Linked DNA regions of Homo sapiens. The protein of the gene in region 1 purifies or fractionates together with the protein of each later gene. This does not show direct contact. Each region holds a gene or a part of one and is shown on either strand. Other genes may lie near its edges. The genes, in order: KIF16B, DCLK1, CMTR1 and RAB40B.

Region 1 (7,873 bases):
GTGTGGTGGTGTGCACCAATAGTCCCAGCTACTCAGGAGCCTGAGGCAGGGAGATCACCTGAGCCCACCAGGAGGTTGAGGCTTCAGTGAGCCACGACTCTGCGCCACTGCACTCTAGCCTAGACAACAGGGTAAGACCCTGTCTCAAAAAAAAAAAAAAAAAAAAAAAAAAAAAAAAAGGCATAGCTGTGACTGTCTTAAGAAACTGACTTTGACTTTGAGCAAGTTAACTATGTGCTATGATCTGAATGTTTGTCTCCCCCTAAAATTCAAATATTGAAACCTAACCCCTCACTGAGATAGTATTAAGAGGTAGGGCCTTTGGGAGGTGATTAGGTCATGAGGTCCTTGTGAATGGGATTAGTACCCTTATAAAACAGGCCCAAGGGAGTCTGTTTGCTCCTGCCACGTGAGTACACAGCAAGAACCTACCATGTATGAGGACCTGGCTCTCAGAAGACAGCCAGACAGCCTATCTGCTGGCACCTTGATCTTGGATATCCCAAGCTTCAGAACTACGAGAAGTAAATGCTTGTTGTTTATAAGCCACCCAGTTTACAGTATTTTGTTAGAGCAGTCCAAACACACTAAGAAACTCTGTCTCCCAATCTGTAAAATGGCATAACAATAATGTCTCTACCTGCCAAGATGGCTGCAAAGATTAAACTGGATTTTGTACCTGGAGCTAGGACCAGAGAGTCTGGCACAGAGTCAAGTCTCAATAAAGGTGGCTACCATTTTGCCTACGTAACAGAATCACTTCCGCATTTGAAATGAGTATTACTGCCACATAATTGAAAGCCATAAGGCAATAAAAATAAACTCATCACATCTTGGCCTGAATCAAGCACTCATATTCCTTACAAGGCTGACTGATTACTGCAAAGGCCCCTAGTTTAGAAACTCAGTCAAACTCAATACTCCACCACCAGCAGTCCTTACTTTCCAATAACTCTGGGACTTGTTTTTCTGTAGGTTGCTTTCCCTTTGCCTGAGGCTCCACTACTCTAAAAATAAACATTAAAAACATTAACAACTTCCTTCAATCCTCCTCACAACCAACTGAAACTTCTCCAGTGCCAATGAATTTTGTAGGTGACTTTTTAAAATTACCTAAATAAGCACTGCTGGGTTAATAATTAATTCTAAGTATTAATTATAAAACTACGCATGAGGAAAGTAAAAACAAACAGTAAAAAAAAAGCCTTTCATCTTTGCCTAATGGATTCATCATCAGTCCTCCTCTTTAGAGGTATCAGTGTTAGGTTTCTTACAAACCATTACATATAGATGAATCTGTGTGTGTGTGTGTGTGTGTGTGTACATTTGTTAGCACACACAAACACACAACTTTACTCCACTGTGGATATCTTGCTTTTCTCAATCCTCTACCTTGGAACTCTTTTAAGATCAACACCCTCTTTTTAAGACTTGCATAATAATCCACCAAATGATTTACGCTATAACTTAACAAATTTCCCAATTTTGTATATTAAGGTCACTTATGATTTTTTGTTATCAATGATGATGCAAAAATCATCATCTTTACACATATATCTTTGTAGGCAGCAATATAATCCATATAATAAAAATTAGAAATTAGAAAAAGTAGAAATGAAATGGTCAAATCAAAAAGTTTATAGATTTCCAATTTTTTAAGGGAAGCATTTTCTGCTTAAGTATACAGATTTCTAATCTTGACAGCTACTGTCAAATTTCCCAATATGAAAGTTTCAGATGTTTTGATCCCTTATGCTTCCGTGATCAATGCAGAGGCGTCTGTTTCATCACTCCTGTACCAGCAATTGGTGCTCAGTTAATATTTATCAATCTCACTGGTAAAAAAATGGCATTTTATCACTATTATAGTATGCATGTCTTTCCTTATAAATTAGGTCAAGTATATTCAGTTGCCAATTTATATATCTCTTTCTACTCACTGCCAACTTCTGAATCATTGACTCTCCTTAAAAGTACTGTTGGGAAGGTTATCAACTAGCCTTGTCTTCAAGACCAAGGACACCATCTTATTCTCATCATCCTGGCAATATTTGACACTAACCCCCACCACCTCCTTCAGGATGCTCTTCTCCCTTTCCTGCCATGACCATTTGCTGTGCTGGTTCTCCTTTACGGACTGCAAGCCAATCTTCTCCCTGAAATCCTAAAGAGGGGCATATCCCAATGTCCAATCCCTGGCTCCCTTTTCTTCTCACGTAACATCCTTAAATTGTGGTTTATGTGCAAAAGATTTCCAAATGTCGATCCTCAAATCACCTGAGACCTAAACCCACATTTTCAGCTTTCTGCTGAACATCTCTAGCAGAGGGATGGATGTCCTTCCCACACTTCAGATAATGAACAAGGTCAACATGCGTGAAACACTTGCTCTGTGCTTGTACTTGACACTTAATACATCTCATGTAACTCTCCACATCCAAGAGAGAACATACCAACTTCATTGTCCACCTTCCTCAAACCTGTTCACCTCCTTCAGCATCAAACCTCAGTTAATGACTCTACACTCGCATTCTTCCCCCTTCTTCCCATCCAGTGAGCTGCCAAATCCTGCCAATTCTGCCAGTGAGTGGTCTTCCTGTAACTATCCTGCCTTCCAATTTCATCTCTGGCTCAAACTGCTAATCACCTGCCTCTTACCTCAATCTTGACACCACCAGAGTTCTCTACTGAGAATATAAATAACATCACGCGAATCTGCCTCCCCAAAGCCCATGGCCTCTGGACTTATTTCCTGCCATCCCTCCATGTACCTGGGCTCCAGGCCTACACTGGCAAGGCACTGAACTCACAGTTCCTGTCCCAGCAGGCCCAATACTTCACAAGATTCATGCCAGTACATAATCCCTCTCTCACCATGGCTCACCAGGTCTCATTCCCCTTGTATCCCAGACAGCACCCTGAGGAATGCTATGTGTTTGGTAGGTGCTTAACAAATACTTTTTTTTTTTTTTTTGAGAGGGAGTCTCGCTCTGTCACTGATGCTGGAGTGCAGAGGCACGGTGTCGGCTCACTGCCAGCTCTGCCTCCTGGGTTCACACCATTCTCCTGCCTCAACCTCACGAGTAGCTGGGACTACAGGCGTCCACCACCACGCCCGGCTAATTTTTTGTAGTTTTAGTAGAGAAGGGGTTTCACCGTGTTAGCCAGGATGGTCTCCATCTCTTGACCTTGTGATCCGCCCGCCTCGGCCTCCCAAAGTGGCTCCCAGGCATGAGCCACCGCGCCCAGCCTAACAAATACTTTCTAAAGTTACACAATACAATTTTCTAGCATGTGTTCACCTTTTTCCAAAAAAGAAAAAGAACTTCTATACACATGAAAATCCATAATAAAGAAAAATCGTTCTAAAGTTTATCTTCTATGATGGAATGTACACAGAAACAAAAATATTCCCTTAGAGCAAAAAAGTCAAACTCTTACTCTAAACAGCTTTAGAAATAACTCAAAAGTCACAAAAAGCAGATTCTGAAAACACTGGGTTTTAATGATTACAAACCAAAATAATGATTCCCTACTTGCCAAGAGAAGAAACAGATTTAGATGAGTCAAATAAGGTTCTGGAAATCTTTTGATTTTATGGCCTTCGGCTGCCCCAATCAGGCATCAGAACTACCAAACATTAACCTCCACAAGTTGATATGACAAAAGCAAAAAGGCCCTATGGTAAGTCAAATATCCACCAACTTGGTAGAGAAGTCAATAAAATCAAATGGCTCTGTGTGAACCTTGCCTGTCACCTTGGAGGACACATCCCATTTCTACCTCATTCTTTGAAGTCAAACCAATTTAAAAAGTAACTTTTCCAAAGAAACTTTCTAAACGGATTAAAAAGAGGTCATTGAAAAGGGAGCACAGGCTATTTTTCAGTGAATGAAGAGAAGGATTCTGAAAAAGCATTACTTCGTAGAAATATATAACAAGATTAAATTTTGTGTGTAACACTCTTCCTCTCTCTTAATATCAGAGTATTTCAAACACGTGTAAAGCGTCCCTGACTTTTTTCTAGGAGTCAGGACTTTGTCAAAGTTTTCCCATCCACTCTCTAACATGAAGTTAGGAACTGCTAAGTTATCGATTAGACATTCAGGGAATCAAAATCATCTCTAACTGAAAGATTAAAAAGTAGCATGGTTAATTGTTAAGAGAACTTCTGAGTTGGTAGAAATGAGGGGTTCACCTGACAGTTCGTGGTGCCCCCCCTCAGCACTCTCACCTTCCCCCCAACTATTTTACATCTTCATGGTAACGTTCCCTTGATGCTTTTTTAAAGGGGGAACAAGAACATCTCAAGTTAATACGATGGAGAGAGTTAATAGAATCTTCTCCTTTACCACCAGGGTCCTCTCCAGGGCAATGTGAACGGGACAGCAGTGCACGAAGTCCTCCAGGCCCCCAGAGGCCACAGCCTGGGCCCGGTGGGCCAGGGACCAGCCGGTGACACTTTTAAGTCCAGGCTGGCTTTGGGGGAGCTGGAAACAGGCTTCCTCTGGGTGGGGGCGCGACGAGGGGGCGGGGCGCGGGCGGCCCCACTCACCTGCGATTCATGGGCCGGACCCTCACGGCCACCTTGACCGATGCCATCGCTCATCCCGAACCAGCCCGCGCGGGGTCCCACTAGCCCAGAACTCCGCGGTCGCCGGCGACGCTGGCTACTCAGATCGCGGCTCCCGCCCACTTCCCTCTCGCCCCCGCCCCTCTGCTCCCGGCCGGACCTGGAGTTCCGCGGCAGCCCCACCTGCCAGGCCACTGAGCATGCCCAGAACGGCTCCGGCCCGCGTGATCCATGCGCCACGGTTTGGCGGCGGCCGGGCGGTGCAGAGGGGCGGGGCCGCGGGGCCTGGAAGCAGCCTCCGGGATCTGCAAGTCTGGAAAGGCCACGTTGTGGACCTTGGCGCAGAGGTTATGGGGGCGACCCGGAGCGGATGGTTTCAGGAAAACTAGAACCCACCCTCATGGCCTGAACAACTGGAGAGAAGAGGATCGCAGCAATTTAAAGCCAGCGGCAAGGATCACAGTCCTGGGGTCAGGTGACCAAAGCCAGTTTTTCAGCCCTTAACAAGAACCTGGCTTCACCCAGCCAAACATGAGTTAACGTATCCATTTTACACACGAACAAACTGAGGCGCAGAGATGATCACAGCTTGTTGGTGGCAAACTCCGCTAGGGCCTTCTCTGCTACCCTAAGGAGGTCCGACCGTATGTTTTGGACCCCTTAACTCGGGATACCGATAAACGAAAATTAATAGGGTGTTGGATGTTTTAAATGTGTGCGGGAATGTCATTATATTGGCTAGAATCAAACCTTATTTAGACTTGTTTTGCACTTTTGTACACTTTAGTAATTTTTAGTTTTAATCATAAGGGAGTTAAAGGCGAACACAACTGGTATTTTTTTTTTTTTTTTTTTTTTTTTGAGACAGGGTCTCGCTCGGTCACCCAGGCTGGAGTGTAATGCTGCGATCTCGGCTCACTGCAACGTCCGCCTCCCGGGTTCAAGAGATTCTCCTGCCTCAGCCTCCCGAATAGCTGGGCGTGCCACCACGCCCGGCTGATTTTTGTATTTTTAGTAGAGACGGGGTTTCACCATGTTGGCCAGGTTGGTCTCGAACTCCTGACCTCAAATGATCCGCCCGCCTTGGCCTCCCAGAATGCTGGGATTACAGGCGTGAGCCACCGCGCCAGGCCGACAACTGGTATCTTAAGGCTTAGGGCCTCTGGTAGAAGTGAGCTCCACCTCCCTTCCTGTGTAGAAGGTAAATGCATTCATTCATTCAGTGAATCGAGCATGCATGAAATCGTTTGCGCACACCCAGAAGCCCACCTGCGAGCCACAGGAGCAGCCATTCCAGGAAGCCAAGCTATAATGGGAGACGCAAGGAATGGAGGCGGAACTCCTGTTTTTAAGTCCTAGCTCCAACACTAGCCTTGTCAGCCTGTAATTCTGAATTACTGGGCGCCTCTGAGGCTTCTTGTCTCATCTGCAAATCAGGAACAACGGCATAGAGTGGTGAATGCATCAAGTGGGATGATGTCTGCAAGTACGCAACCCGCTTACACAAAGAATTATCTTTCCATAACCTTCCCTGGACCCCTAGGGCCAGCAGGGAATCATAGCCTCCCTTTGTTTCTAGAGCCCGGAAATCACTGGGTTTTCCCTCTGTCTGGAGCAGAGCTGGGTGCGAATTTGACCAACGGGTGGCAGGAACAGCCGGAGCAGGATATTAAGGAGCGGGCGAGCTTGCCAAGCATGCGCAGTAGCGGCGGGTTGGTTTGAGAAGCCGCCAGGGAGCCAGCGCGGCGACCTAGCTGGCTGGGGCAGGGGAGGGGCCCGCCTTATATGGGAGCTGCGTGGGGACAAACTGTTCGGGCCCAACGCGCGGGTCTGAGAGACAGCCACGCCTGCTCCGGGTCACTCCGGCCACCTGGGGGGCGTCGGCGCGCAGACTCTGGCCAGTTCAGTATTCAAACTCTTCAGGAGTGCTAACTTACTCATGACAGCGATTTTCTGTATCGGGGTTTCATTGGTCGGTGGTTTAGAAGGTTTTGCTCATTCATTCGTTAATGTAATTCCAACAACCTACACGTGTTTATAAGCCCCCTTTCCATCCACGACTTTGCTGTCTGACACAAAACGGACCATCGCAGCCCGGCAGACGCTTTAGACAACAAACAGCATGCCTGGAGCTTTTCAATAGGAAGCAGTAAGGCTTGATCATCACAGACGATACGGAACGGGCACTTTCTTAGCAGAAAATATTTCTATTGGGGCGTGAAGGAAGTTTCTGAAAGGGAAGATTATTATAAGATAAGGGGTTTGCTCATCTCAGACTTTAGTGTGCCTGCTTTAAAGTGTTTTGCAAACTTGAATGTTTAAAGGAATCACCTGGCGGTCTTGTGAAACTGCAGCTTCTAATGGGCAAGTCAGAGGGGAAGCCTGAGACATGGCATTTCCAGCACGTTCGGGGAGTGAAGATGCTGTCGGCTGCCACCCTCCCTGCAAGGAGCCAGGGGATAGATGACCTCTACGCAAACTGTGAGAGCTTAAAATAACTGATAGTGAAAAACAGTTACAGAAGCTCTAGGCCGGGCACGGTGGCTAATGCCTGTAATCCCAGCACTTTGGGAGGCCGAGGAGGATGGATTGCCAGAACTCAGGAGTTTGAGACCAGCCTGGGCAACACGGTAAAACCCTGTCTCTACGACAAAATAAAACAAACAAAAATAAAAGCCACGCATGGTGGCGTGTGCTTGTAGTCCCAGCTACTCAGGAGGCTCAGGTGGGACAATCGCTTGAGCATGGAAGGAGGAGGTTGCAGTGAGCCAAGATCGCACCACTGTACTCCAACCTGAGTGACAGAGTGAGACCCAATCTCAAAAAAAAAAAAAAGCAGTAAATCCAGGGCCCAAAAGGTCAGTAAGAATTCAGGGATCCAAATCAGTTATGTACTGATGCATAAAAATAATGGCCAAAAATGTGGAGGCTTAAAACAAAAACCGGTTATTATTTCTCTCAATTCTTTGGGTTGCTGGTGTCACCCGGGCTTTGTGGCTGGGCTCTAGGCTCACCTGGGGTGAGGAAAAGTTGGTGCATTTTGCTTTTTCATCCTCAAAAAGTTTAGACCAGGTTCCAGATTTCTTGCGGCGGCGAGACACCTCGCCAGGAGAGCACCGCACTATGCACAAGCCTTTGCTGGACTTCCATTGACCAAAGGCAGTCACATGGTCACGCCCAGGCAATGTGGGAGGGCCCCGCAAAGGAGGGGTGGGTACTCAAGAGAGCCACTAAATAACAAACCTACCTTAAGATCACATTTATTTCTAACATTTTAATAGTTATAGTTCAGTATAATTG
Region 2 (7,441 bases), on another chromosome or scaffold:
ATTAATTATCACCCCAATATTATGAGGTATGCATTATTATGCCATCTTAAAGAAGAGGAAATTGAGATTCAGAGAGTTTAACTGATTTGCCAGAGGTCACACTACTAATGAGTATTCAAGTCAGGATTTGACTTTGTATTAGTTAAGTGTCTCATTTCGAATTCCATGCTCTTTTTATTATATCATGAAGCATTTCCATGTGAAAAGCCACATTTACAAAGGAAAATATGATTAGTCATTATAAAAGGATAATTTAAAATAGTGAGTCCCTTTGGCACATTAAAATATGATTTTTTTCCAAAAAAAATTTGTTAAGTGTCAGCTTTTCCATTATAACAACTACCAACAATTGGGTACCAATCACAGTGCTAAATTTGCCATGTGAATTGTTTCATTTAGTCCTCATGACAACTTATAGAGCAGGCATTATTATCATTATTATTATTCACAATATACAGATGATGAAACTGAGGATTATCAGGGTGTGAACTATTTCCAATAGGAGGATAAATTTCACTATGCCCAGAGTAGAGGACAGATTTGAACTCATCTATAATTCTATGGAACTAATGTTTTTCCTCTCTGTCATGTTATCATGTATATCTATGCTTAATTTATAGCATACATAAGCAAATTTCCTCATTATAAGTAAATTCAATATACAGAAATTTTAAACTTAACTAATCAGTAAGTTGGGTAGGCTAACTTAATTTTCCAGGCTTGGATGAAAAACCACAAGCTAGATTTTCCAGACTGAAATCTCAGTCCAGGCTCAGCTGAATTTTTTTGTTTGTTTGTTGCAGGGATAACTGACTGACCAGCTGACTTTAAAGTCCAAGTTCTTTCCATCATCCCAACATGCTCCTGCCAGACAGAAAAGGCTCACAGGCCGGGTCAGGGCTCCAGCTGTCATAGAAGCAAGAGAACTCACCACCAGAAGGCAATCACAAAGCCAGTAGACTTGTAAACGTCCCCCAAATGCTCTCAGCACACTATGGAAGGGCTTTAGAAAACCTATCTTCAGTACAGCAGTGGAACACTAAGAGAACTTAGAATTCATTTTACAGCGAGCTAGAATGCAATTTACAGAAAACTAACTTTTGCTAAAATGAATCTAAGCCTTAAAATATACATCACTGCAGGTACCCATAATTGATCACATCCTCAGAGGAGCTCAAAGTGAAAAAAAAAAGGACTTAAATCTTCCCAATTTGGAGGCACTAACATCTACATAAGGACAGGTATAGCTCATGAGTCCTAAATATTGACCAAGGATATGTGACCTAAAATAGTACATTCTATTCTGAACACTTTAATTCTGTAAGTGAAGTGTCATTACGATTCTTAAACTTCTTTTTCTTTGAAATCATCTATTTCCATCAATTCATAGCTCTAATAAATCATGAGGATGGTTTAACATGTGCTCTGAGCTTTTGTAGAGAATTTTAATTTGACATTTTAAAGTGTAAGCTAAATTACTTGTATCAACTGTTTTTTTACTCCAATCGCAAACAAAACTAAAAAGTATTACATTCCCTTTTGCTACATAGGTAGTGTAGCAAATCAATAGTACACATTCTTTATACCAAGAATGAAGGGTTTTAATATGCTTGCAGAAGTTAATTAGAACTGTCACAGAAAAGTTCTACTAATAAAAAAGGAAAAATACCACTGCTGCTAATAGCTACAGAAAACCTCCTTTCCCATTCCAAATAAATCCTATCAGATTCTAAATTTCTTACATTTTGTCTGGAAACCTCTAGTTTCCACATTTTCTATGCTTATCAACTCCTATAGCCAAGGTCAGATGCAATAATAATTTGTACCACTTTTTTAACTTGTAAGAGGAAGACATATCTTAAGCACTCTAAACCCAAGAGTCGACCAAATTATTTTTACTTCAGATTAGAATTAGATATTAAAGGCCAAAAAGAAGAAAATAAAGACCATTTTGTGATATCTGATTAATAGATTCCTATTAATCATCATTACCATTTCCTGTAATCAAGTAAACTCCTATATTAAACACCTAAAATAAATGGCGGCAATTATTGACTCATTTACAAGCATCTTTTGAGCTTTATAACAGGCAATGAGGATTCATGATCAAAAGATACAGAGAAGATGTAATGATGGATTAATTTATCAACAGCTACTGGGATGTCCTCAAAATGGCAGTTATGATGCTTTCTCATGGCTTACCATCGAAATCAGTTTATGGCTACCCATACTTCAGCTGAGTAATTCCTAATGTTTTCCATATTGGGAAAACAATAAATTGTTTGCTCACTCTAGCATGCTAGCAGTGGTAGATTTTTTTTTTTTTTTTTTTTTTTTTTGAGACGGGGTCTCACTCTGTCGCCCAGGCTGGAGTGCAGTGGCGCGATCTCGACTCACTAGCAGTGGTAGATTTTATAAAGTACATGGCCTATGTGAAATGTCTATAAGATAAAAATATAACATCTCTGGGTTTTTTTCTCTTCACTAAAGCATGCTGCAATGTTGTACAGATCTTTGATGTTGAAAAGTAGATAAGATAGGGATGTGCATTTATTTTCTACTTAAAGAGCAATCCAGTTTGTCATTGCTGTATTTCAGTGGGAAGGGGATCATTGGGAAGTGCCCTATCTATGTTCTTTATAGTATAAATCACCTACTTAGGCACTAGCTGTTCTATGTTTCTAAGGACGGATTCAAGAACCACAGATTTAGCAGCTCAAGAAAGCCAGATTTGCTTTTCCATAAAAGGAGTCAGGAGATATGCAAGGGTATCTTTGTAGCAAATCTGGTAACTTTTAGTCTTATTTTAAGCACTTAAAAAATAGTTATACTCCAAATGGCCTCTGGGAGTAACTGCTTGGCAGGTTAAGTGAATAACCCACAGCAAAGTTCCAACATCCAGAGCTTGGACTTGGGCAAGAGGAAGAGACTCTCAGACTCTAAGATCCTGCAGATCCTCCCCTTGGACATGGGTTCAGGGGACATGATTTTAACTGTTAGCTAGAAAATGTCCCTTTTTCTTCTTTGGAGGTCTTTAACCAAGGCCCAGATTTAAAAAAAAAAAAAATGCATCACTGAAATTAAGGCATGGTAAGTGCTTCCTTGAACTGCCAGCCATGCCAGCAAAAGGACTGATGACCTGGTGAGCAGTCACCCTGAAAGTTGCAAGGAAGAGGAGGAAGGTCGGGGCAACCATTTGCTGAAGCTTCAGTGCCCCTGAATAAAGAATGGAGTTGAAATCATTAGAAAGGGTTTGCTCACACATAGGCTGCTTATGAACCACAACGGTCATCTTGGCCAATTGCAGCTTCCTGCAAAATCTTTTCTAGATTGTGCAGCATTTCCAAAACGTTTATTTCCTTATCTCAGTCTAAAAACATCAAAAAAAGTACTGTTCAATGAACTCTTTGCTTAGGGCTAACACAAACCCGAGAGGCAACTGAGCAAGGAGTGGTGGTAGAAACAAGTGAGAACAGCATGTGGTCTGTGCCCTCCGGTGTCCGTCTCCTCTGGGTAAGATATTAAACAGCAGGCTCCGGCTTTCATGGTTCCATTGTCCAAAATCCCAGCGTCAACAGTTTTCATGCCATGGATACATCTGTAGGCTGCCCCAAGGCAATCTACAAAACCATCTTCCTCTCTACGCATTTACTCAAAGCACTCAAGCAATTCATTTTTTAAACAATTCTATTTCCTCAACCCAAAAACATGAAATTCTTTACTGGGCACTGGAATTCCCATATTGTTTATGGAGTTGATGTGAGGGTTCAGTTAAACTATTTTTTAAAAAGGTGGGACAAGTAATCTTAGGGTGGCATCTTGTTGGCAGCATATGGACCCCGATGCCACCACAGGCAGGCCAAGATGGTAGCAGTGCAGGTGCCACCCCACTATGGCCAAGCGTTATTCCACAGGACAGCGTGGAGGAAACTGATTTATTCTCAGAGGCTTATCAAGCCTCAGTCTCTGCCAGGGTTGTCAAAAATTCTACTCTAACAAACTGCTTATGGGACAGATTTCTCTTTTGAGCCAAAAAGATTCTAAAGACTCCTGGGGTCCATGAGGAAGCATCTTTGTTCTCACTGGGAACCCAACGAATAAGTCTTTATGTTCTTTCCACTTTATCATCCAATTCCTCTGCAGCTTTTCACTGATCCTGCTATGAAGAGAACATGCCAACACTAGGGGAAATGCCACAGCAGCAAACTGAACGCTTGACAAAACAACAGTTGAGTACAACAGTCAGCAGAATGACTGCAGGGAAAAAAAGGACAGAGCAGAAATGTTTCAGATGATATTCTTTGGACAAATTACTCCCTTGACAATTCTTTCTCAATACATTTACATCAGTTTGGTGCCTTAACATAATCTAAAGTGGTACAGTGGTTACCAGCACAAGCTCTGGAGCAAGACCAGTTTAAATCGTAGCTGTGTGGTCTTGTGCATGTTTTTAACGAGTTCTGTGCCTTAGTGTTCTAATCTGTTAAATGGGGATAATAAGCAAGTTGTTATGAGGATTAAGCATGCTAATACATGCAAAGCACTTTGAACAATGCTCAATAAAGCTATCATCATTATAGTTCAAAATTGCTATTGCATGTATCATCATAGTTGACCCACAGCACTCTATAAAACACAGGTAATCATTTTATCTGTGTTTCACTGATGAGGATAATGAAGCTCAGTTAAGTGTTTTGCTAAAAACATAAGGAATCTACGGCTGAGCCAAGACTTGAATCCTGGTTTTTTGACATTAAACCTCGGATTCCGTCCCATGACTTTGGATTATTTACATGTAAACCACAGTAAACTAGCCATTATCAAATATTAATTCTAGACAAATTCAGTAAGGAAGAAAACAACTGAGAACATCATACCTATTGTAGGGATTTATTCCTGAAATAAACAAAATTAAATAATCAGCTGATGGCAAATTTTAGCTAAAGTCATTAAAGCCGATTTTTAGATTCAGAGTAGCATTTTGGAACTCCCAAAATTCTGAAGTGCAGCAGGGAGAGGGAACATTTATCCATATGTATTCTTTGCTCTAATGAGACACTTTATAAAAATATTTATTTGAATAGGTAAATATTTATGAAAATAGATGAACTCCCATCTTGAGAAAATTCAATATATGAAAATTCAGAACTACAAGATGTTTGAATAACTCATTAGAAATGGAGCCAGTGAAGGGCTTACAAAATGTGTAAAGGTGAAGTTTGCCATCTTATTGCTACTATAATTCACAAGCCAGCATGAACTTTCTGGTCATTGATAGATTTACGACATTTAGGCTACAGACTCTTAAATATAGAAGACTAAGTCTCATTCATTAGAGAATCTCATCCATTAGAATCCTTATCCGCATATTACTTAGGGCAAGGGTTATAAGCCAAGCAAAAGATGGTAAATACAAATGAACAACTGGCACATATTCCTTCTTTCCTAATGAATTTTATAATTTAGAGCATCTGAATGGATCCCTAAGGGAAGTATTCTTTCATGACTAATACTCTTTCTAGGATTAGCATCTATTTCTAATTCAGAAAGTTTGAATGCGCTAGCCTTTAAGAACTTGGAGGAGTCTTCTATTTAATAAGATCAATCTTTTAATTCATGGATCATTTTAATTTTAATATTTACTATACATACAAATCATTCAAATTATCCCTCAAAAAAAATTTTTTAAAAAAGCATTTTGATAGCACCACATTAAAAACTAAACTTCCAGCAAAGATAGTGTGCTCAAAAGTATAATCTGGTAAACTCTGAATGACTAGCAAATCATGCTGTACATATAATCAATTTTTTTTTTTTTTTTTTTTTGAGACGGAATCTTGTTCTGTCACCCAGGCTGGAGTGCAGTGGTGCGATCTCGGCTCACTGCAAGCTCCGCCTCCCGGGTTCACGCCATTCTCCTGCCTCAGCCCCCTGAGTAGCTGGGACTACAGGCGCCCACCACCACACCCAGGTAATTTTTTTTTTTTATTTTGAGTAGAGACGGGGTTTCACCCTGTTAGCCAGGATGGTCTCGATCTCCTGACCTCGTGATCCGCCTGCCTCGGCCTCCCAAAGTGCTGGGATTACAGGCGTGAGCCACCGTGCCCGGCCCTAATCAATGTTTTTTAATTCAACTCACCATCAAGGTTCTGTCAAACCTGTACAAAAATAGTCCACCCAAGACAATAAAAGGTGATGCTTCCTTTGGGTTCATCTGACCAACTCACATTAAAATGACCACCCATCCAAGTCAACTGATGTTCATTCTGTAGCTGAAAAACCTCCCTTTCATTTTAACACTGAAAAATACAAGATGCGTACTATTCTAGAAATATGCCTTTAAAGCTATCCAGATGGAAATATGTCATTTCTTAGATACATATTTTAAAATCTATAAAATGTAAGTAAATCTCACTAGCGAACACTACAAAGACTTAAAATCATAAAATATTTAGGTCAAAGAAATAAGTTAGAATTTTCCCTACTGGTCAGAGTTTACTTTCACACCTCAGTCATTCATTCTTCAGGCTATAAGATCTATGAGAAAACTGAAAACAGATGACAGAAAAGAATCATTATGTTAAGCAAATAATAAATGAACAAGTAGAAATCACTGAGTAATTATTTAATCTTCAAAGATATGCATTTTTTTCTTACTTTATTCCTATGAATAATCCTGCTCAACTCAAACTTCTGACTGTTCTAGGGCCAGCAAGTACATATTTGTTGATCAAGTGACCCAGGCCCTTTAACAACTTGAGCAAAATGTATGCTTTAGCCACGTACACCCTCCGACTCCCTGGTTCTTGCCTTAAAGTCAAAGTCACATCACAATATGTCTCTTACCTGTTTCCCATCCAACGTGTACAGGCGTTTCACCACTCCCGAGTCCAGCTTGATGGCATCGGTGATATCGGTGAGGACCTGCTCAAAGGAATGAGCCGTTTTCTTGTTCAGCAGAATCCTGACAGCTTTCCGTGGCTTCACGCCACTTCTGATGATGGTGACCAGCTTGGGCCGAATGAAATCCTTATTCTCTCGCACCTCTGAAGGGCTTCCTTTGGCAGTGGCCAGTGAAGACACTGCCCGAGAAGCCGAGGTGGTCTTGACGTTCACCGACCAGTTGGGGTTCACATTCTTGGTGTACTCCAGTTTCTTGAAGGGCTCTATGGAGCCACATACATAACTCTCTCCTAAGGAAGAGAGAAATATATTTAAATTTATACTAAAATATGCCCATTTCTTTTTTCCTACTTATCCTCTCTTTTGCCTTTTCTGCTTAGGGGCAAGAGCTAGCCCTGACTTTTCAAACAATGGAAGTGTGATTAATAATTAGGGAAAAAGAAAGATTTCTGATTGCTAATCTGGCACTGTCAGCAACAGATCCACATCCTGGAAAAACAAAACAAAACATTATTCCTCCATTTCCTCATCTTAAGGT
Region 3 (7,441 bases), on another chromosome or scaffold:
CAGCAGCAATTAAAGGGAAATTACTCCTGCCTCCAGGGACACAGGCTGCTCTGTCAGCTTTCACTGTTATACACAGGCTCCTGCAGGCAGGCCTATACTAGCCAGGCACCTACCTGCCACCCTTGGGATAGGGCATGGCAGCAGGATGGGGGTCCCTGAGGGTAACTAACCAAAGTCCCAGGGAGCCCTGAAACCAGCAGACCAAACCCAGTTGCCAATTTGTCAGGGTTGACAAAGTGATACCAAGAGCCAACCATTCAGTCTTTCACTCTCTGGTCTTCCTTAGGACCTCAGTGTTACCAGCAAAAACCAGCCCGTTGGCTTACCTCTCATTGGACCGTATCATGTAGTCAGTAAATTCATGGTCTCCCTTGATCACCTCCAGGGGGACCACCAAGTTGACGTCGGAATCCGTGTTCCGCAGCTGATTGAGTTTAATATTCACTGCGAAGAGGTAATCCCGAACATCATCTATGCCCACCTTCAGGCCCTTGCACACCACATACCTGGCAGAAGATACTCTGTCACTCCACCGAGCAAGGGCTTCCTCCCCATACATTCCTTTTCCCCCAACCCCTTGTGGAATCACAAAGCTTAATGGCTTCCCTGTTCAACCTTAGGCCTACGCACAAAGAACAACACAGACCCTTTGTGGTGCTAAAGTTCCCCTCAAATCCTTCTCTGTTGAGCTCTATTTCTACTCTCTATCGCAGTAGTTCCTAACTTCCCTGTGACAGACGGGCTGTGTCACAATCACCTGGGGAGTCTGTTAAATTATAGACCTAATGAATCAAACTCTCCCAGGAGAAGGCCCAGAAATATGTGTTTGTAACAAAGCCACCGGGCAATTCTGATTGGTTGCATTTTCTCTCACCTTGTGTGTGGGCAGTGTCACACTGGGACCCCAGTAGTGCCTCTGGATAGCGGCTCCTTGCCCCTTCCCAGCCCAAGACCCCTGAAGTGTCCCTACTATTGGTCACTTTCTCCTTGGCCAAGCTGAGAATCCCTCACATAAGCATGGAGCATAAGGCTTGGAAGAAGGAGGCAGAGGCTGAACTGGCATATCACAAGACCAAAAGATCCAGGAATCCTGAATCCTGTTGGCTCTCATCACTTCTTTAAAGTCAAGGTTTTAAACGTAGCTTAAGAGGTCATGCCAGAGAGATGCACCATGATTTGCTGTTCTGACATTTAGCCAATTAATCTGGCTAATATAGAGAGAAAGGCTTCACCTCTCTGAGTTGGCAGGACGGCTGGTAATAGGCTTGAAGAGACAAACTCGTTCAAAGCAGCAGTACAGCAGGTAGACAAGCCCCACACTAAACGGTGTGAACAGGTCAAAGGTTTTACAGATGAAGTGGCCTCCTAGATTAGAGAGAAAACACCAAAAGCAGCCAATGGGTCTATTCCAAGAGATGGGTGAAGTAGTCTTGGGAGTAAATATGACAAAGTCAAGGAAACCAGCACCTGGGTCTGTTAAAACTCAGAGACAATTTAAGGGGGAGAACCATCTTTGGAGGGGACTTTGAGGATTCCACAGCCCTTTCTTCCCTAAATTACTCATTTAGCTACCTGTCCTCTAATATAAGCAGATTTTTTTAACTTCCCCACCAACCCCTTGTACATGTTCTTGTCCAATAGGGCCTCTAAGTGGGTCCTGGGGTGAGGAGACAGCTGAGGAAGTGTCACCTGTCCGGACAATGGACAGCGCCATGAGGAACTGACACAGAAGCAGCTGCTTGCTGAGGATCTCCTGCAGGTTCTCCTGCCCCTCCACCGAGAAACCCTGAAATGAGAGCACAAGGAATGGGGTGGGAAAGAGAAAAGAGAAGGACTAAGAATAACATCACTACCTCATCTTCATCGAGAGTTCTTGAAGTGTTTTCACTGATCACCATCTGATTGATGAAGAAGCAGCTCAGTGTTGAGTTATTTTAGAAGGTCACTGGGCTTGTTAGATGGAGTAAGCACAGGACCCAGGCCTACTACTGGACCAGCTCCACTTTCCTGCTCTGTCATTCTCAGGGGATGGAACCAAGCCTGCTTTTCCAAGGAGATGGTTTAGAATGTGTTTTAACTCATGGGAATCCAGAGAAGAGTAAGGCAGAACAGAGGCAAAATATTGGCTAGTCAGAGGTCAACCACAACATAGGAAACAGAATGCTCTGGTGAGTCCTAACAAGACCAGGGAGTGAGTACAGTGAGAACACTCTGCTTCGGCTTCCCACTCTGGTGAAGGAGAAAAGTTAACTTTCCTAGTCACAGTAATCTCTCTCTGTTGACTCAGGTTTTACTTACAATACCCCCTTTCCTGTCCTAAGACCACGGTGCCTCTTGTATCCAGCTGGCAGACTCTCTGGCCAGGGTATTTACTGAAAGAATGTGTGATGCTATTTCTAGAGTGGTCTCCCTCCTTGTGAGATCCCAGCAGGAGACAGAGTCAGGCTTACATAAAAGTAAAGGAGGCCAGGGGACATCAGGTGGCACAGTGTTGTTAAATGGGTACAGTTTCTGTTTTGCAAAATGAAAACTTCTGAAAATCTGTTGCACAACAGTGTGAATAGACTTAACACTACTGTTAACACTTAAAAATGATTAAGATGATCAAATTTGTGTTTTTTACAATAAAATAAAGAAAAAAGGACGCTGCCCTCTATTAAACACGCCCCAGGTGTCCCTGACTCAGTTCTACAGAAGTGATAGCTAAAGGACTCAGGATAAGAAATGTTTAGGAGTGTCTTCCAGACTTAAAGATGCTTCTCAAAATGCATGCCTGATTATGGGGTCAATTAAAAAAAAAAAAAGCCCAGGTCACCCCTTTACACTGCTGAAGTGCTGAAGCAGAAAGCCCTTGAGCTTCCAACTCTATAGCTGCCGCACAGCAACAGCTGCCTCATTAGCGCTATCAGACTCCCACATCTGCTCAGCCAGAGCAGCCCCTCCCTCACAGCCAGCCCCAAGCCTGTCATCTGTTGTTCCCTGCTGTGCACAGTGCTTTGGTGAGCCTAGGCATCTTTGGATATCATGCTGACATCCTGCCCACCTTCCTTCACTAGCCACACAGCTACTGCTTAAGAGGCCACCCAAAGAGTCCCAGAGGCTTTTCTCAACTCTAGCTATATGATCCTGGAGCAGCTGCCAAATTGTCTGTCCTTCCTCTAGAGTAAGTGGTGGCTCACTCCAGAAAGGAATGCCTGCATTGTCAGATTACTGGGTGAGAGCTTCTGCTGAACAAAGCTGCAATGGGCTTCCCTCTGTGCCTCAAGCAGCTGCCCATAGACAAGGCCTCTTGAACATTCACTTTAACCCAGCCCTGACAAGAGCCTCCTGTGGATTCCTCTGTGCTGCCGTCTTTGGTTAGGTGGCCATCTGTCAGCCTATGAGAGGCTTACAGGTGACCATGTATAGACAGCCTCCACCAGGAGCAACACCAAGATCACCCTGCTCCAGGCAAAGGTATCCACAACATCAGTCTCTACACAATTATCATTTAAAAAATGTATAAAAAGAATAAAAATGCATTCTCTACAATCTGAACTGTGAAATACCATCTTTGGGAGCAGCTAAAGAACCAGATAAAACAAACAATTCTCAAACCTCTAAAATAACAAATCCTTAATGCATCAGTCTATGGAAAAAAGGTAACCTACCCCATCAGCCATCAGAAAATGGACACCCTTGCGATCTGTGTTATCCAGGACAAAATTCCGAAAAGCAGAGATGTTCTCTGGGCGGGTGATATCTCCATCTCCATCAATCCCACCCTCACCTGTCAGAATACAAGAGTCATAGTGAGTTCATCTGCCCTATACATGTCAGGAGCTGGGACACGAGTGCTCTGGGTCAGTGAAGACGGGCATCAGGTGTCTCAAGAACTAGGGCCCATCCTGCAAGGCTCCCTTACAGTGATGGACCAGGAGGAACAACAGTACTCTGCTATAATGAAACACAGTCCCAAAGGAGTTGACCAGTCAAAAGTCATCAACTCGTGGAACTTTCTCTTTAAGACCCAAGTTGTGTTTAAGGCACCTACATTTAGGCATCAATTTTGTAATAAGGACTGTTCAGAAAGGACTTAGGATTTGCTGTCAAATTACAATCAACATAGAACAGAGGGACTGCTGTGGGTTGCTGAGCTGTCTGCAACCCAGTGCATTCTGCACCTGGCACAGAGGGCGAGAGATGGGCATTGGGTTTATATTTGTTAAAAACCCTGCCAGTTCTCAGCCAGAGATCAGGCAGTTTCATTATCTCCTGCCACCACAAAAGCAGAGTGTTCCTGAAAGGAGGAATTAATAGGGCCTTGATGAGAATCTGCTGAGGGAGTGTTTGACCTGTATTCTGCAGGCCCAGGGTAAAAAGGGATAGTCCAGAGGGAACCAAGATTCTGACATGAACTGTGAAGCCCAGGGTAAGAGACCTAGGAAAGAAAATATGGCATGTGGATAACAACTGCTTCTGACCTGAAGTCCCCATAGAGGGGCTGTCCCTCATACCTCCTAGTACCCTCCTCAATGTCCCTACCATAGTAGGGTTCGAAGAGTTCACTGGAAGCAGAGTAGAAGTCCTCCAGCTTGAAGTCATTAGGGCCCTTCAAAGTCATTCCAAAGCCCTTTGCATGCCACTTCTTCCTCCACAGCACATACTCTGAGAAGCCACCTGGGCCTGCGCAGACATCAGCAAAGTACAGAAGCTCAGCTTCCCGGTCCTTCACCAGTGGCTTCTGCAAAGGCAAGTGGAGGACAGGAGAGGAAGGAAAACAAGACAGCTCAATGGGCAACAGGAAGGAGAATGCAGGGAGAGTAAAATAAGCCTTTCGGCAAGTACAATCCAGAGCTCCCACCAGAGCTACAGCACCCAGGAAATGTATCTTCTGGTGATTAACACCCTTTAGTGTTGCCTCACCCACCCTCAAAATACCCACAATGCCTATCACATCACCAGGCCTAGCTCAGACTCCTCATAAAAACATCTTCATGGAGCCAGGCGCGGTGGCTCAAGCCTGTAATCCCAGCACTTTGGGAGGCCAGAGAGGCAGATAGCCTGAGGTCAGGGGTTTGAGACCAGCCTGGCCAACGTGGTAAAACCCTGTCTCTACTAAAAATACAAAAAATTAGCCAGGTGTGGTGGCGCACACCTGTAAACCCAGCTACTCGGGAGGCTGAGGCATGAGAATTGCTTGAACCCGGGAGGCAGAGGTTGCAGTGAGCTGAGATCGCGCCACTGCACTTGAGCCTGGGCGACAGACCGAGACCCTGTCTCAACAAAAACAACAAAAAACATTTATGGGTATCTGACTACATTTTTTATCTCTCAGAGTGTTTTCCTCACCATATCCTGCCTTTCAAGAGTCCTACTGAACAGAATATGCCCCACATATACAGATAGGGAAAAAGAGGCACCAAGATACAAAGTCACAAAGTAATCTGTTCACAGCCAGTCTGCAACAAAGCTAAATCAGGGTCCAGTTGGCCTAGCCACTAGACTCAGGTCTTCCTGTCCAACCAAAGGCTGGGGGGCTCTAACACCCTCTCCCAGCCACAGGAACCTTCCTTTTCCCATCATAGCCTCTGTCTTCCTTTCTCCCCTTCCTCCTTGGCTCTCCCAACCACCTTTTAAAAAATCCCAAATAACTTTTTATTTTGGAATAATTTTTGATTTACAGAAAAGTTGCCAAGATAGTACCCCTCACCCAGTTTCCAATTTTGTTAACACCTTACACCATGGTATGTTTGGCAAAACTAAGAAACCAACATTTGTACCTTACTATTAACTAAACTCTAGACTTCATTTAGATTTTCACTAATGTTCTTTTTCTGTTTGGGATCCAATCCAAGACACCACACTGCATTTGGTCTCTCTCCTTTTTGCACTCCCTTTTTTCTTCTCCTGCCCAGCGCTGGGTGTGGGGTTGGGGCAGGGCACAGTCAGAAGCTGACAAGACAGAGAGGGAAGGAAATACTGTTGTGCAGCAACAGCAGCTTCCAGGCAACGCTCGGAGCACCCAGCCAACTCAGGACTGACTAATCATCATTTGAATTTTGGCATAATTACATTTGTGGCCCCTTGAGTAGCTTTCGCTCTCTCTCCCCAGGTTTTTTTGTTTTTTTTTTTTTTGGCAACGAGGTCTCACTCAGCCCATGCTGGAGTACAGTGGTACAATAATAGCTTACTGAAACCTTGAACTCCTGAGCTCAGGCAATCCTCTTTCTTCAACCTCCTGAGTAGCTGGGACCCCTGACACACACCACCACGCTCAACAAATTTTTTTTTTTTTTTAGAGACAGGATCTTGGTGTATTGCCCAGGCTGGCCTCAAACTCCTGGACTGAAGCAATCCTCCCACTTCAGCCTCCCACAGTGTTGGAATTACAAGTGTAAGTCACCATGCCCAGCCTAGCTTTATCTCTTAACCTCACATTTATGCTGAACCCAGTACTGGACCATATTGTATGTTTATACTTCTCTTACACAAATGCTAGGTATGCTCTTACCCACACCTGAGCCCTAGACAGTGAAATTCTACCCACCCTCCACAGCAGACAGGATGAACCATTTGCACTGGTGACAACAACAAAAGGTTGAGTTCTACAAGTGAGTAACTGCAAAAGACTATAGTTGGCCTCAGACCATGATGAACACTCAAGCCAGAAGGGGCTTAGGGACCTCAGTCTTCCCTCTCTACAGGTTCGGCATGGCTGAGTGCTGGTCTAGAGTTCTGCAGCTGCTAGATAACGATCAGAAAGCTTTAGGGGAAACAGTCCCAAGAAAGAAATAGACATACTAATGTTTACAACCCAATCACTTCTAGGTGAGGTGGGCCTTTCTTCTGATGATAGCTATCTGGCTTTATCAAAATAGTGAAAAAGTCTCTGGAGAAAGTGACTTTAGCTAAAAATAAATGTCATCATCCCGTGACAAGCCCACTCCAGGCATGCTGGGTCTTAATCGTTCTTTCCCCACTTCCTTACTAAGCCGCCCCAGCATTCTTTGTTCCTGAGCCATCGATTATTCATCTTTTTGGATTATATTCATTTGCACACAAAAAAGACCTAATGGTATTTGCCAAGAACATTATGTAGCATCTTCGAGTCAGCATGGTGGTAATGTGGCAGGGGTCACAAGTTTTAGCCCTACACATACTGCAAAGAGGGAAAAGCAAGGTTCCTTGCCACTGGCCGTGCCCTCTAAGTGAACCACTGGTCCAAAGGAAGACTGGGAGAAGGATGCGGAATGATCGATGCGAACACCTCACCCCTGCAAAGGGGGCATGAATATGACCTCGTTCTGTGATTTCAAGATGTATGGCCCTTATAGGTCATGGCCAGGAAGTCTTTTCACAGGAAGGACAGCTGGCGTTCTTAGCTCTGCTACTTACTGACTGTGCAGTTAAGGACAAGCACACAATTTAAGTCATTAAGCTTGAGCTTGCTCAGTTATAA
Region 4 (7,441 bases), on another chromosome or scaffold:
CGGCCTCCTGGGCCGCTGCCACCCTGAAGGAGCAGAGCAGAGCCCAACCCCAGCCCCAGTGGGTGTGGGGAGGGAGGTGAGGGCAGGTGGGGGCAGGCAGAAGACCCAGTTGTGGGCACCAGGAAGGACCACACTCTGGGGTCCACACTCCGGGGTCCACGGTGGGAGTGTGACCTTGCTCAGACGACAGTGTGGACAGAGCTGGCACCGGCACCACAGGAGAGCAGCCTCAGGGTCCTGCTGGGGCCTGGGGGGATTCTGAGCTTGGCAGAAGCCCCCTGGGATCTCACTCCTGAGGTGAGAGGGAGAAAAGTGTGAGGGTGACTGTTCGGCCCACTGGGCAGCTGGGGTCAGGGAGGCGTTCGCTAAGGTGAGCAGCCAGACCCGGGGTGGAGCTGGGAGAGGGCACGCGCCAGCCCTGATGCAAGCAGATCTTTAGGAAGGCACTGAGCTCAGGGGCAGGCGTGGGGCCGAGTGCGGCCTTTGGGTGGCCTTGGCCCCTCAGGAAGGAGTGGTCTCGGGGAGGGAGGGAGAGACTTGAGAACAAGGTCCTGGACCTGCAGGGCTCAGGGCCAGGAGGAGGCAGCAAAGGCCCAGCTGGCGGAGGGTGGGGAGCAGGACAGGGGCTGACGGCAACCCCAACGCCAGCCCAGCGAGGGCATGGCCCCGGGGGAGTGGGGACCTGAGAGCAGACTGGGCGGGAGGCCTGAAGCTGTGCAGCAGGAAGGGTCGGGGCGCTTGGGGACACTGTGGAGACAGGCTCCCCAGGACTGGCCACTACTAGACGGGGCAGGCGTAGGAAGGGGACAGGTAAGAGAAGGGGGTCCCAGCTGCTGGAGGCACACGTGGCTCGGGGGTGGCCCAGCAGGCAGGAAGGGCCAGGAGGCTCAGGCGAGGGTCACCCAGGAGTGGCAGCAGTGCAGGAGGGATGCCCAAGAGGGAGGCAGCCCCAGGATGAGGCACCGCAGGAGCCCCCCATCCCCACCGCCCCAGAGCTGGAACCGCAGGAGCTCCCCCCATCCCAAGCCAAGAGCGGGTGGAGGGAGAGGTGTTCCAAGCTGGCCCCAAGGTGGGGGTGCTGGGGGAGGGAGAGGTGCCCCGGGCTTGCCCCAAGGTGAGGAGCTGGGGTTCTCACAGCTGAGAGAGCAGAGCCAGCAGCCCCAGGCTGGCCAGCAAGTCCTCACCTCCCCACGTCTGGGTCCTCCACCCGCAGGCCCGACCACAGCCCCGCTGGCACCAGGACGCTCCGAGCTCCCTGCCGGGTGCTCAGTGGCATCACTGAGCCAGGCGTGGGGGACCCAGGAGCCCCGGGCTGCCTCAACCACGCTGCATCGGTCCCCTCTTGGCATCTTCCCACAGACACCAGGCCACAGGTTCTGATCCCAAAAGCCGATTCCCAGCCACAGCGCTATGTCCGTTCTGGGGTCCCCTACTCTGGATGACGGGGGCCCAGACAACCGGACCACCACCTCCTTCAGAGAAGCCCTGGTGCAGCTGGGGCTGGGGGTGCTCCCCGGGGCGCTGTGCCGACGGTGGTGGTGGGAGGGTGTTCCCGGGGGCGCTGTGCCAACGGTGGTGGGGGAAGGGTGTTCCCGGGGGTGCTGTGCCGACGGTGGTGGGGGGAGGGTGCTCCCCGGGGTGCTGTGCCGATGTTGGTGGGGGGAGGGTGCTCCCTGGGGTGCTGTGCCGATGGTGGTGGTGGGAGGGTGTTCCCCGGGGGCGCTGTGCCGACGGTGGTGGGGGAAGGGTGCTCCCTGGGGTGCTGGGCAGATGGTGGTGGGGGGAGCTTGCTCCCTGGGGTGCTGGGCCGATGGTGGTGGGGGGAGGGTGCTCCCCGGGGTGCTGTGCTGATGGTGGTGGGGCTGGTGGTGCTCCCCGGGGTGCTGTGCCGACGGTGGTGGTGGGAGGGTGTTCCCGGGGGCGCTGTGCCGATGGTGGTGGGGGATGGGTGCTCCCCGGGGCACTGTGCTGACAGGGGGTGCTATGCCAGCCAGGGGGGTTACTCCCTGGGGGTGCGGGACGCTCGCACCTCCTCCAGACTCACCAGAGCTGCAGCTTCACCCGCCGCCCGTCCAGCAGGATGGTGGTCGTCTTGTAGTCGATGCCTGCGGAAGGGTTAGAGACGGCTTAGGCCTGAGGCTGCAGCTAACAGGACGCTGGAAGTCTCACGTTCAGGGAAGAAAAGGGTTTCTCATCAGTGCAACTTCCAGGTTTACAAGGCAGGCGGATGGGACCCCCTCCCTGTGTCTGCCCAAGCTCACAGGGGCCCTGCCTGCGCCCTCCCGCACCCGGGCCCCTCCTGTCCTCAGCCGCCTTGGCCTCTGTGGGGGTCAGGCTCGCATCACCCTGGCCCAGGGGGCTCCCCGACAGGCACTGCAGGGCCTACATGTGACCTGGAGGCCGGTGGGTTTGCCGCGGGGCTGTGGCCGCTGGGTGTGCCCCCGTCTGGGCTGGTCCTTCCCTCCCCACCTCCTCCCCAAGCCTGCAGGCCTGAGAGCTCCGACTCAGCTCTGTTTCCAAGGGAACGGGGCTAAGGCAGCGGCTCTGCAGACACTGAGACTGCGTCCCCCAGTATCACACTAGGAAAGTACAGTAAAGACAGACGTGACGCTGCGTGGGATGCCCGCTCTCAGCTGTGTACATGTGCATGTGAACCACGCATGTGCAGGGACACGGGACTGCACACCCGTCCCAGCCACCTCTGGGGTGCAGATTACAGGTAGGCTGGAACCTTCTTTCCACATTTCTATTTTTTCAAGTTAAAAACAAACAAACAAAAAAAAAACCCGAGAATGCCTTTCTTCTTCTTTTTTTTTTTTGAGACAGAGTTTCTCTCTGTCGCCCTGGCTGGAGTGCAGTGGCGTGATCACAGCTCACTGCAGCCTCCACAGCCCAGGCTCAAGTGATCCTCCCACCTCAGTCCCCTGAGTAGCCGGGACTACGGGCATGTGCCACTAGGGCCAGATAATTTTTGTATTTTTTTGTAGAGACGGGGTTTCGCTATGTTTCCCAGGCTGGTCTCAAACGCCTAAGTTCACACAATCTGCCCGGCTCAGCCTCCCAAAGTGCTGGCATTACAGGCATAAGCCACCATGCTGGAACACTTCTTCTAAAATAAAAAGCTACAATTAAGGGCTGGATGCGGTGGCTGACGCCTGTCATCCCAGCACTTTGGGAGGCTGAGGCGGGTGGATCACTTGAGGTCAGGAATTCAAGACCAGCCTGACCAATATGATGAAACCCCATCTCTACTAAAAATTCAAAAATTAGCCGGGTGTGGTGGCGGGCTCCTGGAATCCTAGCTAGTAGGGAGGCTGAGGCAGGAGAATTGCTTGAACCCGGGAGGCGGAGGTTGCAGTGAACTGAGATTGTGCCACTGTGCTCCAGCCTGGGCGACAGAGGGAGACTCTGTATCAAAACAAACAACAAGAACAACAACAAAAAAAAAAAAAAAAAAAAAAAACTACACTTAAAAAAAATCTTTTTTGAGACAGGGTCTCCCCCTCGCCCAGGCTCTAGTACAGTAGCACAATCACAGCTGACTGCAGCCTCTACCTCCTGGGCTCATAGGCACACCACTGCACCTGCCACCACACCTGCCACCGCACCTGCCACCGCACCTGCCACCACACCTGCCACCGCACCTGCCACCACACCTGCCACCGCACCTGGCTAATTGACAGGGCATTGCTGTGTTGCCCAGGCTGGTCAACCTCCTGGACTCAAGTGATCCTCCCACTTCAGCCTCCCAAAGTGCTGGGATTACAGGCATGAACCACCATGCCTGGCCACAATACATTTTTTTTTTTTGAGATGGAATTTCGCTCTTGTTGCCCAGGCTGGAGTGCAGTGGTGCAATCTTGGCTCACTGCAACCTCGGCCTCCTGAGTTCAAGTGATTCTCCTGCCTCAGCCTCCTGAGTAGCTGGAATTACAGGCATACACCGCCACGTCCAGCTAATTTTTGTATTTTTAGTAGAGATGGGGTTTCATCATATCAGTCAGGCTGGTCTTGAACTCCTGACTTCAGGTGATCCACTTGTCTCGGCCTCCCAAAGTGCTGGGATTACAGGCATGAGCTGCTGCTCCCGGCCAATAAATATTTTTAAAGGGAAAAATATGTTTCCCCGCCCCCATCACCCCCCAGACACCAGTGTTCTGCTTCTTTAGGAAACATCTCCTGTGTTCACTTCTAGCGCTTCCGGATGAGCACCAGGTCTGTCATTGAGAACATGGAAAGAGAGGGTTTGAGTTAAGGGGCTGGAGAATGCCGGGTAGGAGCACTGCCTTCCTAAAACCAGGTACAATGACACGTACAATCACAGGAACCCAAACTGCTTAGTAACAAGACATGACCAGCCTTTGTGGGATTTGCTTGATTTATTTCATGTATAGGATTTACTTGACAGTATCTCTCAAAGCACTAAACCTACAAGAGACAAGCCCTGGCCTCACTCTCGGCTGTGATCGGATGTTGAGTGCTTTGACAAGTATGGCTGAATAGGGAATCAGAATTCTAAAGGGAAGCGCGCCGCTGAGAGGCCGAGGGGAGAAGCAGCGCCGAGGCTCGCACCAGACCTCACCCTGGAGACCGTCGTGGAGCACACGGCCTCTGCAGCTCTCCTTCCAGAGAAGCCCACGATGTAGCCAGTGAGTGCCCAGAAACAGGCTCCTCTAAAAATGCGAGGCTGCGGAGGCCACGGTTCTCAAGCAGCTTCTGCCCCCTCGAAGGGTCTAGAACCCTTGGACTTGGCCACAAGCCCCCCTGCATCCCAGGAGGCAGTGTGCCGAGTTCCTGGTCTCCTGTCGGGCAGAGCGAGGTGTGCAGTGGCGGTGCCACCGGTGGCCTCCCACTTGGCTTGGACAGCTGGTCGCCCACATCTTCAGGCAGGCCTGGGCGTTGCAGCAGCTCTGGGCCTCTGTCCTCCACTTTCCACTGATGCAGCCATGAGCACGTGCATGGCACACCTGCCTGATCTGAGCACACCTGTGCAGCGCCTTCCATGAGATCCCGAGCACCCCTCCCTCCCACAGCTGCTGTGTCCAGCCTGTCCCCTGCCCTCTGCTTCCTCCTCCGGGCCCTGCCCCCTTCCTGGACTCCAGAGGCTCTTTCTGTGGTGCCACCAGAGCCCCAGAGACATGGAGTCCAGGCTTCCCGCATCCTCCTCTGTCTCCTGCTAAACTCCACACTCTGTCCACAGAGACTGCCCATCACGCCACCAGGTAGATTAGACCAAGCAACACCAGAGCAAACTCCCCCCGTCAGAGGAGAGTGATTCAGAGGACAAAAGATACAGCAGCACTGAGAACGCCCGAAGCACCCGCTTTGCAGACGCCACCTGCCCCGTGATGAGGCTCAGACAGAGCGGCCAAGCAGTCCCCTGACCCACCCAGTACGAGGCTTTCCTGAGCTGGCCAAACGTTTGCCACCGAGCCCAGCAGGCACGCTGAGTGCACCGTCTGTCTCTCTCTTCTTGGCATGGGCGCTGACGGGGCACTGATGGGGCCTTTGGGATGTTGCTCTTCCGGCTGGAAACCTCTGTGGCTGCTGAATTATTGTCCTGCATCCAGGAAGAATGAGGTACCCAGACAAGTGGAGGGTGAGCGAGACGAGGAGGAGCTTTACTGAGTGTTAGAACAGCTCAGGGGAGACCCACAGTGGGTGGCTTCTCTCTGCAGGCAGGTCGTCCTGACAAGTGTTCAGCTCTCAGCAGACAGGGTAGCTCTCCGCAGCTGGTCATCCCGACGTCCGCGTTGCTCTGAGTCTGGGGTTTTTGTGGTCTTCAGGGTGGGGAAGTGCACGCTGATTGGTCCACAGGCAGCCCACCCCAACCAGCATGCACATCCCCCCTCTGACAAAAGCACCGAGTCCTCCTTCCAGTCTGCAGGACTGGCAGCCCGGGCCCCAGGCCCCCTTGAAGCTTCAAGGTGTGGCTTCACCAGGGACCTGCCCCCTTCCACCCAGAAGTCTGTCTGCCTCCCACTGCTGTTCATGGCACCCAGCTTGTTCATGCCAAGGGGCGCCTGCAGGCCAGCACTGAGCCACCCTCAGCCCTCCCTCAGCTTCCCTCCCATGTTCAACAGCGCCCAGTCCCGAGGGGGCTGAGGTGGCAAGGGCTGGTGTGTCCGTGCTGCCCCAAGTGTGGACCCACCCGGATGGTCTGCAGCAGCACCTGGGCTCAGCCCCAACTGTGCTCCACGACTGGAGCGGGCGTGGGGAGTGAGGAGAGGCCAGGCATTTGGAGCAGGCACTTCTAAGCCTGCAGGGGGCAGGGGTGGCCTTCCCAGGCCTCCAAGAGCACAGAGACGCCCGCGTCTAGAGCTGCCCCAGGGCAGCGGGCCGCGGCACGCAGGGAAGGCGGAGCTGCTGCCTGATCCGTGGATCGAGAGGCCCAGCCATGCCTCCGCTGCAGCCGGCATCTTGGCAGCAGCCACTCTAGATGGGCCACTGCTACCATCAGCATCTTAGCACCAGGAGCTTGACCTCACCACAGTGGGGCACGCGGCGTAGCCTCCATTGCTGTCAGACCAAAACCACACTGCTGTGGTTTTCCCAGGTGACCAAGTGAGTATCAAGGAAACAGTCCTTTTACAGAAAGGAAAATAGCCAGGCACGGTGGCTCACGCCTGTAATCCCAGTTCTTTGGGAGGTTAAGGTGAGAGGATCGCTTGAGCCCAGGAATTCGAAACCAGCCTGGGCAACATGGTGAGACCTCATCTCTACAAAAAATTTAAAAATTAGGGCCTGGGCGCGGTGGCTCACGCCTGTAATCCCAGCACTTTGGGAGGCCGAGCGGGGTGGATCACCTGAGGTCAGGAGTTCGAGAGCAGCCTGACCAACATGGAGAAACCTTGTCTCTGCTAAAAATACGAAATTAGCCGGGCGTGGTGGCGGGTGCCTGTAATCCCAGCTACTCAGGAGGCTGAGGCAGGAGAATTGCTTGAACCTGGGAGGTGGAGGTTGTGGTGAGCCGAGATCACACCATTTCACTCCAGCCTGGGCAACAAGAGCGAAACTCTGTCTCAAAAAAATAAAAATAAAAAATAAAAAAATTGGCCAATCATGGTGGTGCACACCTGTCGTCCCAGCTTCTCAGGAGGCTGAGGTGGAAGGATCTCTTGAACCCGGGAGTTGGAGACTGCAGTCAACTATGATCGTGCCACTGCACTCCAGCCTGGGTGACAGAGTGAGACTCTGTCTCTAAAAAAAAATGTAAAAGGAGACAAAAACACTTTTCTGGAGCCTTCCAACTAGATAGTTCTACTAGCCCCAGCGCGGGAGCTTCAGGCCCTGTGAAATTACGCTTTGAGCGACGACCAAAAATCTCTTCACAGTCCTTTAAAACCCTACTAAGCTCTCGGGAAGGCACCATCATGTGCCAAGTCCTGCAGCCGTCAGCAATGAACACACTGAGCGTGAAACACAAACAATAAATTAAAAA

The links.
Region 2: the proteins of KIF16B (region 1) and DCLK1 purify together in Homo sapiens (affinity purification with western blotting; one study listed by BioGRID). This does not show direct contact.
Region 3: the proteins of KIF16B (region 1) and CMTR1 purify together in Homo sapiens (affinity purification with mass spectrometry; one large-scale study listed by BioGRID and IntAct). This does not show direct contact.
Region 4: the proteins of KIF16B (region 1) and RAB40B purify together in Homo sapiens (affinity purification with western blotting, with the first as the bait; one study listed by BioGRID). This does not show direct contact.

What each region holds. Positions count from the first base shown.
Region 1 is NC_000020.11:16,568,674-16,576,546, forward strand, and holds the start of KIF16B (kinesin-like protein KIF16B), read right to left. Parts: upstream 4,776-7,873; 5' UTR 4,603-4,775; coding exon 4,556-4,602; intron 1-4,555. UniProt on the Homo sapiens protein: Plus end-directed microtubule-dependent motor protein involved in endosome transport and receptor recycling and degradation.
Region 2 is NC_000013.11:36,105,023-36,112,463, forward strand, and holds part of DCLK1 (serine/threonine-protein kinase DCLK1), read right to left. Parts: intron 7,194-7,441; coding exon 6,847-7,193; intron 1-6,846.
Region 3 is NC_000006.12:37,455,894-37,463,334, reverse strand, and holds part of CMTR1 (cap-specific mRNA (nucleoside-2'-O-)-methyltransferase 1), read right to left. Parts: intron 4,724-7,441; coding exon 4,525-4,723; intron 3,770-4,524; coding exon 3,651-3,769; intron 1,787-3,650; coding exon 1,690-1,786; intron 1,366-1,689; coding exon 1,233-1,365; intron 507-1,232; coding exon 327-506; intron 1-326. UniProt on the Homo sapiens protein: S-adenosyl-L-methionine-dependent methyltransferase that mediates mRNA cap1 2'-O-ribose methylation to the 5'-cap structure of mRNAs.
Region 4 is NC_000017.11:82,662,452-82,669,892, forward strand, and holds part of RAB40B (ras-related protein Rab-40B), read right to left. Parts: intron 5,857-7,441; exon of another isoform or gene 5,782-5,856; intron 5,750-5,781; exon of another isoform or gene 5,481-5,749; coding exon of another isoform or gene 5,390-5,480; intron 2,106-5,389; coding exon 2,045-2,105; intron 293-2,044; coding exon of another isoform or gene 1-292. UniProt on the Homo sapiens protein: RAB40B small GTPase acts as substrate-recognition components of the ECS(RAB40B) E3 ubiquitin ligase complex which mediates the ubiquitination of target proteins.